Regions from separate parts of the Homo sapiens genome. Here region 2 is linked to region 1. The links come from fine-mapping of genetic effects on gene expression. A gene starts in region 1. The other region holds a variant in brackets. All regions are shown on one strand. Distances are between the middles of the regions. Region 1 holds the start of TMEM17 (transmembrane protein 17). Region 2 has its middle 34 kb from the start of TMEM17.

Evidence for each region.
Region 2: its variant is fine-mapped to the expression of TMEM17 in thyroid (GTEx, PIP above 0.99).

The regions. Positions count from the first base shown.
Region 1 is chr2:62,502,063-62,511,793 of GRCh38, reverse strand. TMEM17 (transmembrane protein 17) reads left to right here and starts at 5,599. Exons shown (of 4, transcript NM_198276.3): 1 at 5,599-5,764; 2 at 9,000-9,103; 3 at 9,244-9,357. The coding sequence starts at 5,665. It also overlaps the pseudogene RPL37P13. RefSeq lists silencers at 5,419-5,688, 5,899-6,068, 6,406-6,700 and an enhancer at 9,513-9,731.
Region 2 is chr2:62,467,103-62,476,833 of GRCh38, reverse strand. It overlaps a transcript of TMEM17 not described here. Among named protein-coding and RNA genes, the nearest start is that of TMEM17, 34 kb to the left of the region's middle. RefSeq lists an enhancer at 486-1,218. The variant T/G (reference allele first, on the strand shown) is at 4,179.

The sequences.
Region 1 (9,731 bases):
ATAGCAGGTGAGCAGTGTGGTAGACCAACACAAAGAAATGCCACCGAACCAAAAAACTATTATATAAACAGTATTTTAAAGGGGAAAGAATTTTCTAATAAAAATTCTCAATGGAGATGTCTCTGAAGACAAAATATTAAAGTCAGCCTTGAAATATCACTTAATATAGTATAAAAATTCCTTTCATGAGATTTTGCTTTCTGTATAATTCACAGCCTGATTCTTTCTTATAAACCTTTGAGAAGTGCTGTGAATAGAATATATTGTACCAGGGACTTGTATCAAAAAATCTTTGCTTATCCATTAACAATTTGAGGATTCTAAGATTACATTTCAGGTAATTTAGAGTAAGATTTTTTTAATGTGGATGCCGATGTGGAATCATATCATCATCATAATTATATATTATACCCAAATATATAATTTATCTTTTAAATTTATCTAGATTCTGAGAAATGTCTCTCAGTTCATTTTAAAGCAATAAACTGAATGACATACTTACTTAAAAATATTTCTAAACTCTTTATTAGTATCAAGTGGAAAGAATTTTTTTTTATGCCAAGGAGTAATTTAAATAACTGAGGTCAGGTGTGGTGGCTCATGCCTGTAATCCTGGCACTTTGGGAGGCCAAAGTGGGAGGATCATTTGAGCCCAGGAGTTGGAGACCAGCCTAGGCAACATAGGGAGACCTTGTCACTACAAAATAAAAAAAAGTTAGCTGGGTGCAGTGGTATACCCCGGTAGTCCCAGCTATTAGAGAGACTGAAGTGGATGGATCACTTGAGCCCAGGAGATTGAGGCTACAGTGAGCTATGACTGCATCACTACACTCCAGCCTGGGCAGCAGAGTGAGACCCTATCTCAATAAATAAATAACTCCCCAAATCAGTTTCTTGTCATATAAGGTAATACATTATTACCAGACAACATGGTCCCTTATCAAAGGGAAGCTAATCATTGCATCAGTCTCAAAATGTTTGTGAAAACAAATAAGCAAACAATAAATGTAATTAAACCCCAAGAAATACATTAAACAACTATTGCAGAAACAGCTATTACTCTGAACATCAACACTGGTATAAGAACTAAGCAGTTTAAACTTTATGGGACTATTCATTAACCTAAAATGATTCCCGTGATTTTAAGTACAGAGATTCCGTACTTCTTTTTTTTTTTCTTGAGACGGAGTCTCACTCTGTCGCCCAGGCTGGAGTACAGTGGCACGATCTCAGCTCACTGCAACCTCTGTCTCCCAGGTTCAAGCAATTCTCCTGCCTCAGCCTCCCGAGTAGCTGGGACTGCAGGGGCCCGCCACCACACCCAGCTAATTTTTGTATTTTTAGTATACACGGGGTTTCACCATATTGGGCAGGTTAGTTTCGGACTCCTGACCTTGTGATCAGCCCGCCTTGGCCTCCCAAAGTGTTGGGATTACAGGTGTGAGCCACCGTGCCTGGCCCATACTTCTTTCTTTAGATCCTAAGTAAGTAGTAGGTCTAGAAGATGGGAAACCCAAATCATACAATTCTTCATTTTTCATGAATGTGGATGCCCACCTGTATAGGCAATCACATTAGTGAAACACTGAAGGATCTCCTTTAGTATTTCTAATGTAATTGCCTATAAATATTGGGAGTATCAACTAATAAGATAACATTTGGAAAGTTTTTTTGAGCCCCTTGGACCATTTATGATACATCAATAATGGCAGGACTCATTCCAAACCACATTTTTTTTCCTCTCAAATTATCTTCTCTAATGTTTTTGCATCATCATTGCCTCTTCCTCTCAATTTATTTTTAACAAGATTTTTTTCTAACTAGAAAATGTACGCTCATATAGGAAATTTGAATAATAAAATTAGAAGGAAAAATACCCATAATTCTATCACTTTTTTTCCTCCAGGATTTTGATAACATAATTACAATCTGAAGAAGGTATCTTGCATCTTTTTTCAATGCCAGGGGAAAATATCTTTAAAATAATTCACTTAGGTTTTTGATAAGAATTCACATAGGTTTTTGGTTAACATAATGGAGTGCTTTAATGCTTAACTGCCTCCACTGTCTTTATTAGGAAAGCAACAGAGGTATTACCTAGCAGGTCCAGTTGAATTTACAAAATTAAATACCAGCATTATTTGACTCCACTCTAGGTGTTGTTTCTTCATAAACTTCATTTTAATTGATGTGTAAATGGTAGCTATCATGTATAGAGAGCCTTAATGATATAATATCACATCAACCACAACAGTAAGATATCATTATTTTTACTTTACAAAACGAGTATCTGAAATCAGTCACACAGCTGTTAAGTGGTACATCGAGAATTTTAGGGTATTTGAACCCTGCCCTCTCAGCTTCCAAGGACATTCTTTCTACTGCAGCCCAACACCTTGCCATAAATATCGTAATCTGCTTAATGAGGCCCTGTGGTTGGGCACTTCAAATGCCCATTCCCCTCTTTTCTAAACAATTATCAATAATGTTGGAGAAGCATTTGGTGTATAAAACTTTGTTTCTATGATTATTTTCCTTTAATAGAGCACGCCTTAAGATTTTATCGTGTTAAAGGAGGCAGGAACGTTTTAAAGGCTATTTCTATACATTGCCGATTACTTGTCTCAATGCGGTTGGCCAAATTATAATTCAACAGCTGAGCCTGAGGCCTCCTGCTTCACTGTTCCGTTTATAAAAAATCTCGGTTCATTTGATAAATGAAAAGTGATTCTCTGTTGCTAAGGTTTTTTAAATTGTTATGATTCACTATGTTTTAATACACCAATTCACCATTTTACAAAGTGAACCTTTTAAAGGGCTAGCTAAGTCCTTGAACTAGAAGGGGAAGACAAGAGAGTGGTCATTAGGCTTTTTCTTCCTTTTACTCACTCAACAGTCATCCAGCTCCTACTCATGGCCAGGTACCACACTGTGCTAGTGTTGGGGATATAAAGATGAAAGTCCATTCTTGACCTCTAAGAGCTTGAGGACTAGCAAGAGACACAGACACATAAACAGACAATTTTAGTATAGAGTGACCAGCACTGTGACCAAAGAAACAAGAGGAAGATGCTTTGGGAAACACAGAAGAGAGCACCTAAGCTATTTCAGGAAGGTCCTAGAAGCCTTTTTGGAGATTCTCAGGTCTGAACTCCATCTTGAAATGAAGCAGAAGTTAACCAGCTTTTCCCTGACATCCTCAACCCGAATTAATTGCTTCTTTAATAATTAAAAGACGTGGTCCTTTAATAGAGCACGTCTAATAACAGTGTTTGCACTTACTTGTTTCCATGTCTCTCTTTCACTGAGCTGTGCTTCTTGATGAGGAGGGACCATATCCCTAATTAGCCTAGCACGATATCCAAATAAGCAGTAGGAATGCAATAAACGTTTGTGTAATTATTTTAAAATTCTAGTCATGAACTTATTTCCACCCATATCTTCTTCTTGCATTTATATAAATGTGTAATTTTCCTTTTGATTGTAAAAATAATACTTTTACCACACACCCATCAGAAGGGCTAAAAGGAAAGGATAAGAAATAACAAGTGTTGGTGAAGTATATGGAGTAATGGAAATATTCACACATTGCTGGAGGCAGCAGAAATTGGTTTGATCACTTTGGAAAACTGTAGGCAGCCTCTACTAAAGCTGGGTCTTTCGTATCCTATGACACGGCAATTCCACTCTCGATATACACTCAACAAAAATGCATGCATATGTTCACCAAGAGGCATCTTTTCCCCAAAGCAGCACTATACACAACAGCTCCAAACTAGAAAATACAGACACTCATCAACAGTAGAATGAGTAAGCTTATTGTGGTATGATCACAAAGAGCAAGGCAAAAGAATCTACACTCAATGACATGAAGGAATTTCATGAAAGTAATGTTGAAGACAAAGCCAGTTTTTTAAAAAAGTACTTACAGTATGATTGCTTTTATATAAATATGCAAAACAGAAGCAAGATGACAAAGGGAGTGTCATCATCTAGAAAGTGGTGCGATAAGATGCACAGCTAGTGCTGCCCTGTGACTCTAACTCCTTCAAAAGTCCGCCTGTGGCAAACGCGGCTACCCTCCCAAGCCAAGATAAAGTATAATTGGAGTGCCGAGGCTAAAAAATATACCAGTGGGACTGGTCGAATGAGGCACTTAAAAATTGTGTACAGCAGGTTAAGGCATGGATTTTTTAAAGGAATGCCACCTAAACCCAAGAGGACAGCTGCTGCAGCATCCAGTTCATCTTAAGAATTTCAGGCCAGGTACGGTGGCTCACACCTGTAATCCCAGCACTTTGGGAGGCCAAGGCGGGTGGATCACTTGAGGTCAGGAGTTCGAGACCAGCCTGGCCAACATGGCGAAACCCTGTCTCTACTAAAAATACAATAATTAGCCGAGTGTGGTGGCGGGCACCTGTAATCCCAGCCACTCGGTAGGCTGAGGCAGGAGAATCACTTGAACCCAGGAGGCGGAGGTTGCAGTGAGCCGAGATTGTGCCATTGCACTCCAGCCTGGGTGACAGAGCAAGATTCTGTCTAAAAAAAAAAAAAAAAAAAAAAATTTTAGATTAGTCACACAATAAATGTTCTGATTTAAAAAAAAAAAGGCAAAACTCTCCTTTGCTGTTAGAATTCAGGAAAGGTCAGTTATGAGTGAGGAGTGGGTTTAGTGACTGAAAGGAAATAGGAAGGGGGAGTTTCTGGGAATATTGTAAAGTTTCTTGAACAGGGTGCTGATTACACATACAGATTTCAGTCTATGTATATATATTACACTTATTTCTTAAGTAATATATATTACTTACAAAAGGTGTACAATTTTTCTGTATGTGTATTACACTTAGTTTTTTTTAAGTAATATATCTTGAGAGAAAGCTAGAAAATAAGACGTTTAAAAATTTTTGAATCACCTACAATCCCACTATCCAGTGAAAACGACTGTTAACATTTTGGACTTTTTTCCAGTTCTTTTTTTCAAGCCAGTGTGCACACGCTCTCTCCTCCCCTCCACTCATACACATAAATTTTGCTAAATTAGGTTCATTCTCATTTAGTTTTATTTCTGCTGTATTTTTACATAAAGTTAAACTATACCATTCAATATCCTTTGCAAGCATTTTATAAGCAGCTGAAACATACTCCATTGAATGTATGTGCTCCAGTACATTTAATCAGTTGCCCATTGCTGTTTTCTTATTAAAAAATAATCAGTCACATGATGTCTCTCTCTCTCACACACACCCCTACACCTCTAGACATTCTTTAAGCTCTGCATTCGTTCTCTATTTCTCTCCAGAAAGGTTGTACCGATTTACAGTTCCACTGGCAAATGTGAGGGCTCCTTGTATCGCAGTCCAACCCCAGCTCATTTCTTAGTATAGGTTTGTTTTTAGGATGGTCGAGCTCAAAGCAGAACTAAGGGATCTGCCGTTTTGTACACGGCCGAGGCGCGCGGCTCCCTGGGCCTGGAACGCGCTCTGAGCGCGCCGGTCCCTTCCAGGTTGCGCGGGCTCCGGACGAGACCCAGCCCAGCCGGGCAGCCCCGCGCGCTCCCGGGTCCCGCCGGCCTCGCGCCGCCCGGTTGCCGTGGGAACCACGGAGCCTCGGAGCGCCCGCAGACTAGCCCGTGTCTGAGGGGGTGAGGGATACTGAGGCCCAGGCATGGAGCTGCCGGATCCGGTGCGCCAGCGGCTGGGAAACTTCAGCCGGGCCGTGTTCAGTGATTCCAATCGGACCGGTCCAGAGTCCAATGAGGGTCCGGGTGAGTGACCGAGGCCCGGTGCAGGGGGTGTGGCCTGCCGAGGGCTTGGCGTGGATTTTGGAGCGTCCAGAATTTGCCCGTACCTAAAATGGCGATGTCGCCTTCAGCCAGTTCTCCGCAGTGCGGGAGAGCGCCTTGGAGGAGGGGCCGGGCCGGACAGGGAGCTGAGGCGCTGGCGGCCTCCCGCCCCCGGCCGGGCCTGGTCTCCGCGTGGTGCTCCCTGGCCAGCTTGTTGCAAGCGCGGCAGCTGACGTGGGGCCGATCTCTGTGCCGCGCAAGGCCCATCATTGTCCCGGAGAAACCCCAAAAATAAAAAGATAAAAGCCGCCCTTGCTGCACAGGCTGGTCCCCCGCGCGCCGCGAGAGCGAAGGCCCAAGTTGTTTTGCCTCTGCGGCGCCCGCCCCGGCTTTTCTGTCCAGGATGACGAGGAATAGCCCAAGCAATCCCACCTCCCCCGTCCCCACCCCCACCCCAGGGAACAAATTTGCCTTTTCCCTTTTCCTAGCAGAACAAGTATGTTCCTAAGCAAGGCCATTTTCTCGTAGAAGACATTAAAAAAAAAAGTTAATGAGTCCTTTCAAACCACCATCCACTCCCACTGGCATGTGCCATACTAGCCGGGCGTTCAACAAAACTCACCCCTTCCCTGCCTTCTCCTCCTCCCCTATATGTAACTCTTATCATAAGGTAACAAAATACCATGATGCTTCTGCGTCCTTTAACTTGATGTCAAGTGATAACACAGTTTCCTCCAGAACAGTTTCCTCCTCCTACATCATGATGGTAGACAACACACTGTCAACCAAACCCATGTGGTTTTCATCATTCAACTCTGCTGGGAAATATCAATCTTTTCCTCTGCTTGGTTTTAGAGAATTTTTAAAAGGGACAGAGAAAAGTAAAGGCAGTTCCCAAAGCTGCATTTTGTCACCTTGATCACTTGCCTATTTCCCAAATGTAGGCCTTTATGATTTAGGATGTACAGAGAAAAATGTGAAAAAAATAGGTTTTCACGTTTCTGGTTCCAAGGATGAGGCTTAATGAGCACTAACGTCTGATAATACAAGGTAAAAAGACGTTTTCTGAAAAGGACCAGATAGTAAATATTTTAGACTTTGTAGGCCATATGGTCTCCACGGCAGCCATTGACAATAGTTATTGAATAGGCAGGGCTGTGTTCCAATAAAACTTTATGGACACTGAAATTTGTATTTCATATGGATTTCACGTGTGGAAAAAATATTACTTTTTTAACCATTTAAACGTGAAAAAACATTTTTAGCTCATTGACTGTACAAAAACAGGCAGCTGGCCAGTTGTTTACCTATCCCTGATTTATATTGTATGTTTTAATTTAAATTCCATTTACAGAACTCAACTTGAACTTTTGCAAAATTTAGTAAGTTTATGTCTTACGCTTTTAAGGTTCATTTACATATTAATTTGATTTTCATTTCCATGATTATAAGTTTGATCTGCTGAAATATGGACATAGCATAACCTTTAAGATGTTAACACACAATACTTCTAACATGAAAACCATTCTTTGCAAAATTTGACTACAGTTTCTTCTCAAAGGTACTGAAATGTTCAGCTTGCCCAATTTATTATTCTTTCCCAAATTTTCTTCTTTGTGGATTGGAAGTAGGTTTGATTATTTGTACTGTAATAACAAGTTTATGTCATTACCATGTCCGCAGCTTTGTACTGTTGCTATCGAAAAGATCCTAGGCTGGTGAGTTGTCTTCAGATTTAACAGATTTTAAGAATTCATTCCTTTATCAGTGGTAATTTAATAAACAGTTGCAAGCAAAAGTAGATCATAATAATCAGGCATATTCTTGGAGCTAAAAGAAACTATTTTGCTGTGAGAGACCATGACTATTTCTTATATTTTAAAATAATTAAGTGACAGATAAAAACACTCAGCTATGGAGAAAAGGAGAAAATAATGTTTTTAAGACATTTATTTTAGAGCCTTTAAAATCTTACGTGTACAGCAACTGATTTCAATATATGTGTCTGCTCTTAAGAATTTAGTCAAATTTAGGATGTATTTTGTAGGGCTCAATTTTAAAAATCAAATTCTTAATCTAGGACCCTGCTCTCTTACATAAAAGCAGAAAGTGTTATGGAATCAACCTTAGGTAAATGGAACTCATGTATCACAAATGGCTATGCTAGTAATGTCCTTATGACAGTATACTTTCATTAATTCATTCTTATGTGTATTTGATATTCACTGCGTGGAAAGCAAGATGCTAGATTCTATGAGGGTCTCAAATTAGGGTAGGACATGGTGTGTGCTTGCAATGAGCCTGTAGATAAGTAGAAGAGAAGAAGGAAAGAGGACTAATATTTGTTGAGTGCCTACTAAGTGTGCCAGGCACAGTGCTAGGATGAAATAATTTATATTGGCTCTAATTCTCACAAACAGCCTGTGAGGAAGTTTTAATTTCACTATTTTACAGATGAAGAAATAGAAGCTCAAAGAGTTTAAATAATTCATGTCAAGTCTGACATCCAGGGTCACAGAGGTTTGGGGAGCTCGGATTTGCTTGAACTCTGAAGCCCATGATCTGTTCAGTACACCAGACTGTTTTTTGGGGAGGGGAGTGTGGTTCTTTGCTAGCACTTCTTATTGACAGTTTAGAGTGGTAAGTACCTAAAGGGGAAAGGTATTTCTGCTGAGGTGGGGGAACTGATGAAGGAAGTATTGATGGAAAAGATGACACTGAATTGGACTTTAAAGAATGGCTAAGATTAGGGTATGCTGAAAAGAGAGATGTGTCTAATTATAACCTTGGTAATCCGTTTTTGTATAAGATTAGTTTATCTGTGGGAGATTCATTTTTATTTATTTTATGCATTAATTTTATATGCTATTTACATAGAATTCTACAAAAGAGGCAATGATAATTATCTGTTGAATAGGATTTATGTTGATATTCTACATTAAATCTATACCAGTAGTATATGCCAAAAAGTCAGAAGACTGTAATGGCAAAATGGTAAAATAATTGAAAAATATGAAACGTACCCCCAAATAGCCAATATTTGACCTAACTGGTATTAGGATGAATATTCCTTTTACTGTCAATGATTATAAATAGGCATAAAATTTGGTGTTTTACTGAGCCAATATTATAGTTATTAATTCTAGGGAATAGGATATATATATATAGGGCATAAACCCAAGATTCATCATTTGTTCCTTTTCTGTTCCTTCTGTAGAAAATGAAATGGTCTCCAGTTTGGCACTGCAGATGTCACTTTATTTTAATACCTACTATTTCCCACTGTGGTGGGTGAGCAGCATTATGATGCTTCACATGAAGGTAAATCTAAGCTTTAATACTTTTGCTGCCCTGACGTTGTTAGAGTGTCAATAAAATTCAAGTTCTTAATAATTTTTTCTATCTTAAATCAATGTTACTATACATGAGATTTTACAAACATGTTTTGGCTTTTCTTTTAGTATTCAATCTTACCTGACTACTACAAATTCATTGTGATCACTGTTATCATCCTAATAACCTTAATTGAAGCCATCCGGTTGTATCTGGGCTACGTGGGTAACCTACAGGAGAAGGTAAGCTCTTTTTTCCTTTCTCTCAGTGATAGATATAAATGAAATCAGTTTTCATAACAAGTAAAAGGCAGTGAGGTGTGGCAGAAAGAGCACAGGCCTGAATTTAAAGCCTGACTCCAGCTTTACCACTTCTGTCACTGTGGTCTGTTTGCTTAATCTCTTGAGCCCTGGTTTCCTCATATATAAAATGAGGAAAATAATATTTACTTCACAGGTTTGTTGTGATTAAGTGAAATGATTTATGTAAAGTATATGAATGTAGTAAACACTTAAAATTGATATTTTCCCTCTTCTTATCAGTCTTGAAAATACATGGTTACTTAAACATGTGTATTTGGATCCTGAATAAGAAAATGGGGGAAAATTATGAATTC
Region 2 (9,731 bases), 35 kb after region 1:
ACACAGCTCAGCAAGCAATAAAGCTTTTATAAAAAGGAATTTCAGTCTTTAACATTCATAGAGATATGTCAAAAAGCATCCAACAATTTCTAAATTCCCCTTGTCCAGGCCCCAAACCATCTCACAGCTATTCCAGACCCCTTTGGATACCATTCTTGCTCTTCTTCTTTTCCATCTCTTTTAATATATGAATGCATTTCACTTCCCTAGCTTAAATACATACAGATAGTCCCTGATTTATGATGGTGCAACTTAGGATTTTTCAACTTTACAATGGGTTTATCAGGGTATCAGATGCATTTTTTACTTCAATATTTTTTACTTACAATGGGTTTATCAGGGTGTAGCTCCATCATAAGCTGAAGAGTGCCTGTATCCACATAGCCTCCCGCTCCTGTCTTTCTGCAGAAGCTGTTGTGAATCTGCATCACTGAAGAGCAGCCATCTTCTTACCTGGTGGTAGTGGAAGGCTGAGGGACTGCTGCCTCCCACCAATGCCCTCCCTGTCTGGTTTTTGGATAAGAGTCAGGCTGCAAGCTTCCAGAGCATCACAGTAGATGCTGCATAGTGCCTAGAGTGAAGCCCACAGCAAACCTGCAGGGAGCCAGCCTTTTTCTGCAACAACATACATAGAAAATGGGCATTTTTGTGCCCTATATTCAAGAAAATGGATACAACTGCCACCCCAAGAGCTGAGGGGCTCCCTATCTTATTTGACAAAGCATGACCCCCTTGCAGCACATCAGTGGGCTGACCGCCCCCAGTGGGAAGGCTGCTTGCTGGGCACGCAGGCAGTGGCCAGAGCTCTGACACCGTGGTAGGTCCTGGGAACACACTGAGCTGGCTCCCTCTCCCTCAGCTTCTAATGAACACGAGCATTTGCTTGACATTTTCCTGCACATTCTTACATTTGCCAACTGCCTCCCCGCCCCCATCCACACATTCCACAACATGGCAATTAATTGTTCTCTGCTGTTCAGCAGCATTGGTCTGCACAGCCGCAAGTGTAGTCATGTTTTGTTCCTGATTTAATCAGTGGCTATCCCTGACTGTCCCTCAAAAAACAGACAAAACCAGCCAGCTGCAGACCCAGCTGTCAGCGAGCCCGACACTGGCATTCAAGTGGCCGCAAGAGAACCCATACAGTGCCCAGAGAGAGCCCATTCTTTTCTTTTCTCCTCTTTACAATTGACAGGCTCTGAGAAAGGAAACGTGAGCTCTGGGCTTGGCAGCAGGGCAGGAGGCTCTTGTTAACAGCTTGCCTTCCTGTTTATATGGGGTCTGGCAAAACTGTTAATTTCTCTCACGGAGGTGACAAATGGGAAACCCAGAACCGCCAGGGAGCAGCAGCCTAGAAAACAGCCCAGGCGTGACTTGTTGAAGCAAGGCCAGGGGGCTGGAAATGGGTGGGCAGGGACTCTCGTAGGTTCCCGGGCCCACTGGAGAGGACAGCCGCACTCAGCGGTCCCTCTCGAAGAGGCGCTGAGCCCGGCTGCGTGGGCATGCCTCTGCCGCTGTGCCCCAAGACAGGACAGACACAGTGGAGTGCCTGTGGTGCGGCTCAGAGGCTGCTTCCCAAATTAGCATCTGTGCTAGGACCTGCCGGGTCTGTCCTCACCATCCTTGAGTGGCCTTGGTCTGGCTCAGAAGCTGAAAACACCCCAGGAAATACACCAGGGTTGGGCAGCCCCCTTCCTGCTGCTTCTCCTGGAGCTTCTCCTGCAGCATCCTAAACCCTAGGCAGTGTTTCTCCTGCTGCTTGCACATGGAAAGCACCTGGAGAACATCAGGTTTAATTGTTCTAAGATAGGACCTGGGTGCTGATCTTTTTAAAAAGCGTCCCAAGTGATTCCAATAGGCAGCCGGGGTGGTGAACTATCATCAAGGGTAGATTGCTGTTGCTGTTTTTAGTTTCATTATCAATCATTATTATTATCTGAAGTTAAATGCTGGCTTATTTCAAAAGCCTATTTGCAGGGGTGGGATAGAGGCAAGGAACGAGATGAGGAAACAGATTCCAACAGTCAGAGACCCTCGGAAGATGAATAATAGCCCCAGTTTAACTGGGACTGGGGATATGGGTTTAGGGTAGTTTTCCTGGGATGTGGAATTTTCAGAGCCAAAACTAGAAAAGTCTGTCATGCTACCAGCCCCCAGGGCACCCTGGGCTGTGTCTCCCATGGGTTCACCGGCCCTCTGATCCTCTTCAAGGGGTAAGGTCTTATTCATGTTTGTATTCCCCAGTAGCTGCCATACAGTAGGTGTTCATTATCTAGTCCTGAATTTGCTGCCTCCTGTTTAATTCAACAAAGACCCCTTAGCTGCTGCTATTTTATGTAGGAACGTTACCGTGCTTTCATGGCCTGAAGAAAGACATAGTATTATTTGTTCTGGAGACAGACGCAGCTTCAGCGTGGGTTGAAGAGCAGGTTGTGGGCTGAGCTTTGGGAGAGATTTGCAAGCCTGTGGACATGGAATGCTGTGGCTGCAAACATTTCAGGGAAATGGAGCTATTCTCACCACAGATATAGATCTCATTTAAATATCCCTCTCCACACAATTTTCCTATCAAAGCAACTGGACTGCAAAACTGAACTATTTTGGAAGTTTTGTCTCTTATAAAAGGAAAATCAGGATTCTCTCTCCTTTTTTGCTTCAGTTTTATTCAAAACAAGTAAAATAAGGGTTTGTGGAGAACGCAGCAGCTCCCTTCTTAGGCTCTTTGAGGACTCCCAAAGCCTGACAAGCAGGCCCTCCTGAAGCTCACAGTGAAGGCCTCTCCACCCCACCACTCTGGCCCCTCCCCATCCTCAGTGTGGCCTCCCTGGGTCCCTGCATGGATGGTCCTGTGGCTGTGCAGAGTCCTTCTCGTCTCTGTTCAGGAGACTCACACCCAGCCCCTCTTACTTCCACTCTTTCTGCAATGATCAGTTCAAGCTTGGGATCCTCCAAGAAGACCTACTTCCTCCTTTCTCTTCTGAAAGTTTCCAAAGCAAGCAGAGTCTCTGCCACATTGTCCAGCATCCCTCTGTGATCCCTTGTGGAAATTACCAGGTCATTAGTTCCACCAACATGTCCTTTGCTGATACAGTCTCTGCCTACCAGCCCCAGTCCTGGTATTCCTGAGGCTGTCTGAAAATCTGCATGGCTGTGGTCTGCCCACCTGCTCACCATGATGTGTAAACAGTAGGAAAGTGTGTAGATGAGATATTTCATCAGCAAGAAGCCTGGGGAAGCTGCAATCCTCTGCTGCTTCCCTCACTCCCAGCAGCTGAAGCAGGGAGTGGGGAGGAGAGGGGTAAAGCTGGTTCTGCAGCCAAGAGGCCTTGGGTGGGAGTTCTTTGATTTGGCTACTTTCCCAGGAAAGGACATCTCTGCATCCCTCCAGAACTTCCAAGGGGCCATCTCTGCTTCAGGCTACCATCTCTGCTGCAGTCTCTACTATGTTCTCACCTCCTAAGTCCTGGCCAGATCCTCAGCTTGGCCCACAGGGAGCAGCTGAGCCTGGGATCAGGAACCTTACTCTGGATTCTGGGTTTTGGCGGTGTGGTTGGGTCCTCCCAGTACCTTAGTTTTCTTATCCAGAAATAGGGGTTAATAATAGTACCTACTTCACTGGTATTCAGAGGATCAATTGACCTACTTCTGTTAAAGCAATTAGAACAGTGCCTGATGCATAATAAATGTTGGCTATTATTTAACATTCTCTTAATGGAGGAGAGGGAGGGGATAGTAAATCATCTCTAGGTGAGAAGCCACCTGATTTTTGTGATTCCTGCATCCTGAAGTTTTCCCATCTCTGAGTTTGGTTCTTATTGCTAGAGGCAGTTCTGGCCTCCTGAAGAATCTCTCAGCCCAGACACTCCTGAGTTTCTTTCTGTGTGTGTTGTGTCTCCAAAATAGGCCAGCCACGGCTGAGCTCTAAGAAAGTTGCCTTTAATTGCCACCTTGACACAGTCTACTTCTAATTGTTTTGAATGTGTTGATCTTGATATCTTAAACCTCCATGTGCTTCCTGAGGCAAGCAATTCTGTCTTGTGCATTTTCTTTATCTCCCAACTATGCCTAACATAGTTCTAGGCATTGGTTGAGAGACACATTAAAACCTGGGAGAACCCAAAAGCAATCTACCACCCCATTGCCCAGTGTCCATGAGACCAGAAATAATACTGAGGAGA[T/G]CCCCTTGACCTTGAGCATCTGAGTCTGGATCAGGAAGGTTGGGAAATACATCTGTTTTGGATTTTGGGTAGTTGGGAGAGTGGAATGACAGCCAGCAAAACTTCCATCCCCAGCAGACTAGCCTCTGTCCACTCCCTAAGGTTTGGAGTGAGCCCAAATAGCTTCATTTGGGAGACAGACAGGGGAGACGCCAGCCAGAGCCAATAAATAAATATCCTTCTCTCCCTCGATTTTACTTCCTCAGTGGTGCATGGAAAGCCTAGAGTCTGCAGTAATCAAATAGACATGGACCATGAAGGGCTTCTCATTCCAGGCTGCAGGGAAAGCCCCAAGACTCTGCTATGGTTCTTCATGCCCACCCTTCTTTTGCTGGAAAGGGAGCTGTTTGTGACATTTCTTGTGTCCCTCTCACATTTCAGAGCTTTTGTTGGAAAATACTTTTAGATTAGCATTAAGTCTGTGTTATCCTTTAAAAGACTGGATGAGTAATAAATGAGCTAACCTATCCTATTTTCCAAAAAGAACTCGAAATTCCTCCCACTTCCCTGAACAAAATATCTGTATTCCCACCCACACTCTCAGCAACCTGCTGCCGAGGCTGAAACCCCGCCAAGGTTGGCTTCAGCACTACTGCTCCTGGGGCTTTGGGCTGCTCCCCACTCCAGCCAGGGTCCTTGACTCCGCATCTGAGTTCTTGCTCTTCCAATATAGATAAAGGCACGTTAATGGGGCCAAGAGTCCCTCTGCCAGATGGGCTGAAACACCATAGACGACTATAGTCAGCAGCCCGTGGAGAAGAGTTCAGACATTAAATGCTTTGCTGTGCAGAAGTTGTCAACAAACAGCAAGGCACACCAGCCCACAGCCATTATCCATGCCATGTTTCTACCCTGGCTTCCAGCCTCAGCCTTGCCCCCTGCCCAAAAGGCCCTCCCTTCTCCTAGGCACCGGACAAATTCTAATCTTTCAAGATTCAGACCAAGCTCCTCCCCCTCCCCAGCACTCCTTCAGGATAGGTGCATTTATTGAGCACCTGCTGAATTCCAGGAGTGGACTAGGGATTGAGACACAAAGATTAAACTCCCCAGCCCTACCTGCAAGGAATTCCCAATCTAGGAAGCAATCTCTGACCATTTTAGCCCACAAGTGCTACCGTTCTTTGAACTCCTTTGAACAAGAAGTTTGAAGTACAGTGTAGATCTCACAGAGTCATCAGTCTTAGAAACAGAAGGAAGCTCAAAAAATTCACCTGATTGGTCCAGCCTTGGCTTGGCTATTGTTAATATTATCCCCAACTTACAGACGAGTTAATGGAGCCTCTGAGAGGTTAAGAGCATTGCCCAGAGTCACAGAGTGAGCTAGTGGCCTTTATGTACTCTAACTGCTCTCTGTGTTGGTCTTACTTCCCCAATTGGTTCTAAGCTTCCCAAGACGGGCCAGGACATTTTAGCTTCCCTACCTACAGCCTTTCTGCCAACCCTCCACACGCATTAAGTGCCTAATAAAGACTAGTGACTTGCTGATTGCTCGTGGGCCTCTCTCAGCTCCTCAGGTCACGGGGCCCAAGGGCACTACCTGGAACCCGCAGTCCAGACCCTGCATCTGGAGAGAGGCTGAGCTTCCTCTCCATTGCTCACATTCCCTTGGTGTGGCCTCTTTTTGAGAAGCAGCAGCCTGTAGCCCCCAGGAGAGGACCTACATCTCACTGTTTGCAAACAGGCTTTGCTTGCTCCAAAGGCTCTGTTCTCAAGACAGGCTCAAGTAAGCAGCCCTTGGAACTGGAGTGGTTAAGTTAAATAAGGGTGTTGGTTGCAGTGTTCCTCCTGAGAGAAAATGAAGTTGACCTGATCTCTTTCCCATGAGCCATTTGGAGAACAGGAGATAATAAAGACAGCTGAATTTTCCCCTGGACCGTTCTTTGGGAGCTCTTTGTGAGGGGCTGTGGTCTTGCTGGGAGAATGCAAGAAGGTGAAGAGAAGCTGGTGGGATTGTGCAGGCTGCTTCAAGGTGGACCCCACCCCCAGTGGTGGGCCAGCCACAGTGAGTGACTGAGGACCCTGTGTGCCTGGGCCTCTGGCCAAGGAGGTGAGGGCTGGTTGTCATCCAGCTGAAGGCAGCTGCACTTGTGAAAATGTTCATCTATCGACACTGCACTCACCTGAAATACTACAGGCTGTGGCATGAGCCCAAATCTGCTCATGAATGTTTATCCCTCTGAGGGCAGCCACACCAGGCAGGGGAATTGAGGAAGCAGGAATTGAGAACTCTGCATGGGAACATGTAGATTTCGGGATTCAGATCAGAACCTTACAGTAGATTTGTCTTTGAGTGCAATGTCCCATTTAACTCTCTCCAGAGCCAGCCCCAGGATCCTGTGATTTGGAAGAGGAACTTTAGGACCTTGGAATTATACCCTAGGGGTGGAGAGATTGAGAGAGAAGTGCTCATAATACAGAGGAAAGGTGCCCCCAGCCAAGGATTAATCAGTGTAGTGGAGGAAGCAGACTAATCAAGATGTAATTATGCCAAAGGGAAACAAACCAACTAATGGGTGTCTTCTTAGAGCTCCAAGACCTGAAGGAAGGAGCAGCTTGCTGGCTCAGGGGTGAACTTTTCTTTAGGGGCCAGGAAAATGAGAGGACATGCTGGACATGTGGATCAAGGCCCGGGGAACATGGGGATACAAAGGCAGAGGCCCTGGGACTGGAGTGGGGATGGACTCTCTCAGGGACTGCGGAAAGGAAAGAGATCAGACAACCTGAGACAAACTTGCAGCCAGCCAGCAGGACCCAGGCTGCCCAGGCAGCCAATGGCCAGGAGACAGCCTGCTTCTAGAGCACCAGACACTGCGTCTTCTCAAAGACTGCAAAGTGTCAGCCAACAGAAAAGCCACCTGGGCCTCCTTGCACACTTTCCTATGCTCAGGAGCCAAGAATGTGCCTCCTTCTGTCCTTCTATCTTCCTGACCTCAGCAACTATACTCAGAAGAACAGCCAGATAGTCTTCAAACTGCTGTTTGCCTCCCAACACCTGGCAACAGGCAACAGGCAGACTGATGAACCAACAACTGTAAATGTTTGTTTTCTTTAAATAAAATTCCTTGGAAAGAGCTCTGAAAGTGAGGAGAAGAAATCCTAATTTGGCAACACCATTGAATGTTTGCATTTTCTAGGGCAATTCAATCTCTGGATTTTTAATTAAAGAAAAAAGAAAAGAATTAGCTGAAAAGATCTTGGCAAGAAGCTAAATGAGCCCATGCAGTTTGAAAATGAAGGTAAAAAGTCTCAGCAAAGTTTGTACTTCCCCAAGATCACACATGTGACGGGGTCAGGTGACCTCCCAGCCTTGCATAACATGTCCCATCCCACCCTGATCCCATCCTGGGTCCTCTTTGAGGGAAGAGGTTAGCAATCTCCACAAGCCCAACCAGTTCTATTTGGCCTGAACCTGAGGTTGGAATATGCCACTAGCCAATTTAGGTATGTACCTTCTTCTGTACTAAGTGTTGCCTGTATAGTGTACACATTTATGCTAACTAAAAATTAAATGTGTACCTGAAATATCATCAAATGCATTTGTACATTTCCTGGAACAGTAAAGGTATTGTTTGGCTTGGCCATCTGGGGATGCAATGACAGAGGGTAAAAGAGGTGGGTGGCTGCCATTGCTGGGCCTGACATGACATAGACCCTAATTGACCCCATGGTCTGCATTCAGAAATGGGGTATGTGGGCTTCTAGGTTACCTTTGGTTCTTGTTCCAAGGACAACACTTGGCTCTGTCAAACTCTGCTAGCTCTAGCTACCATGCCTCTAGCTAGTCCCCTCCCACCTCTGAGCCATCCCCCAGTTCTCTGACAGCCACACTTGATGGGCTTCAGCCCCCTGAATCGGCCTTGCTGGCAAACACAAATACAAGCATCCTTGGTTTCTTGCACATATATGGGACTGTCTGCTTATCAGCTGAACCATAAGGGTCTTGCAGTCTGGGACTTTACTCTTTGGTTCTCCCCTGTGTCTCCAAGTTCTCTCTATGGTGAACACTCAGTCCACTGTGACAACCCTCTCCCCCAACACCCACATGCACCCACATACACACAGTTCTATCTAGCAATCTAGAGGTTAAACGTAGATGTGACAAAAACATCAACAGCTCAAGTCAGGACCCCAACTGTAATTCCACTGGAAGTCACTGATATTTTAAGGGGCCAAAGATGACTGTCCCTTGGACTTCAGGCTAAATGTCAAACGAAGATGTGGGGTCCCAATCTTCTAATTTTTAGGGTCTTTTCCATGCTTTGAAAACCTGACAGGGTGTAGGCTAGTCCAGGGATGTGCTGGCATACCCTGCCCCCAGCTCTCCTGAGGCTAGAGAACACACGGCCTTCTCTCTTTGCTCAGCCCTGGGCCAAACCGCAGCCTCTTTAAGAGCCAGCCAGTAAGGCTGCTGGCTGCCTCTGTAGAGTCACGTGGAAGAGCACCAGGACAGGGCTCACCCAGCAGGGGTGAAGTGGAAAGGGGCTTTCCTAGAGGAGGGAAAGGGAATCACTCCAGCCCCCTGCACATTTGCCAAAGCCACATCAAACTCTGGGGCTACTGTTATACCACTAACAACTCCTCAACCCCAAGCCTTCCTAACCAGACCCAGCAGAGGGCATGCTGAGTACCCCGAGGATTTGCTTCCTCTGAAAGACGTCCTGAGTCCTGAGTCAACAAACACTTGGTTTCACAATTCGCATCTGTTTTCTGATTAGAAAAAAAAAAAAAAAAAAGGAGAGATGGCATGCCCACATGCTCCTGCAGGGAAGCTCACCCACCACCCCAGGCCCTGCCACCTGGCCTTTGCAGACTGTGTGAACCTCTGAGACTACTTGGCCTCCATGTCTCTGGAGCTTAGAGGAGCTCCTTAGGCCAGAAACCCTGACTTTCCCAGCCCTGAATCATCACAGCTCCACCTGGCCCTGCAGCCAGAAAACAGAGCCGCTGACTTTCAACCAAAGGGACACGCAGTTTGGGAGGATTCAAACAGGGTCATTACTGCTCAGTCTTTCAATGAGACTAAGCAGAACAAAGCAGGACTGAACCAGAAGAGACAAGTGCTCAGTTGGCACCTGAGGCAGAGCCCACTCTATCTCTATGAGGCCTTGGCTCCTGGGTGAACTTTCCCAGAAGTGTTTTGACAAAGACACTTCAGAAGTCTCTATAGTGCTTCCAAGTTCACATGTTCATCGAATGTTAAAGTAGGAAGGGACTTTTTGTGGGACTTTCGCAAGTCCTTTCTCCTTTCTGGGCTGCAGTTTGCTTATCTACACAATGAAGGGATTGGACTAGATCCGTGGGTCTCAATCCTGTCTGCACAAGAGAACCACCTGGGGATCCTGCAATCATGGGCAGGGAATGTCTGTGATAGCTTCAAAGTAAACAAGGGGCAGGTGCAGGGGTGGGGAGGCGTGGGCGGGGGGAAATGCTGCAACAGGACTGGCTAAGTGTTGAAATTGTTTAAATGGGATAATACGTAAATTGGGGGTAAGAGGGTGGGGTCATTCCATTCCC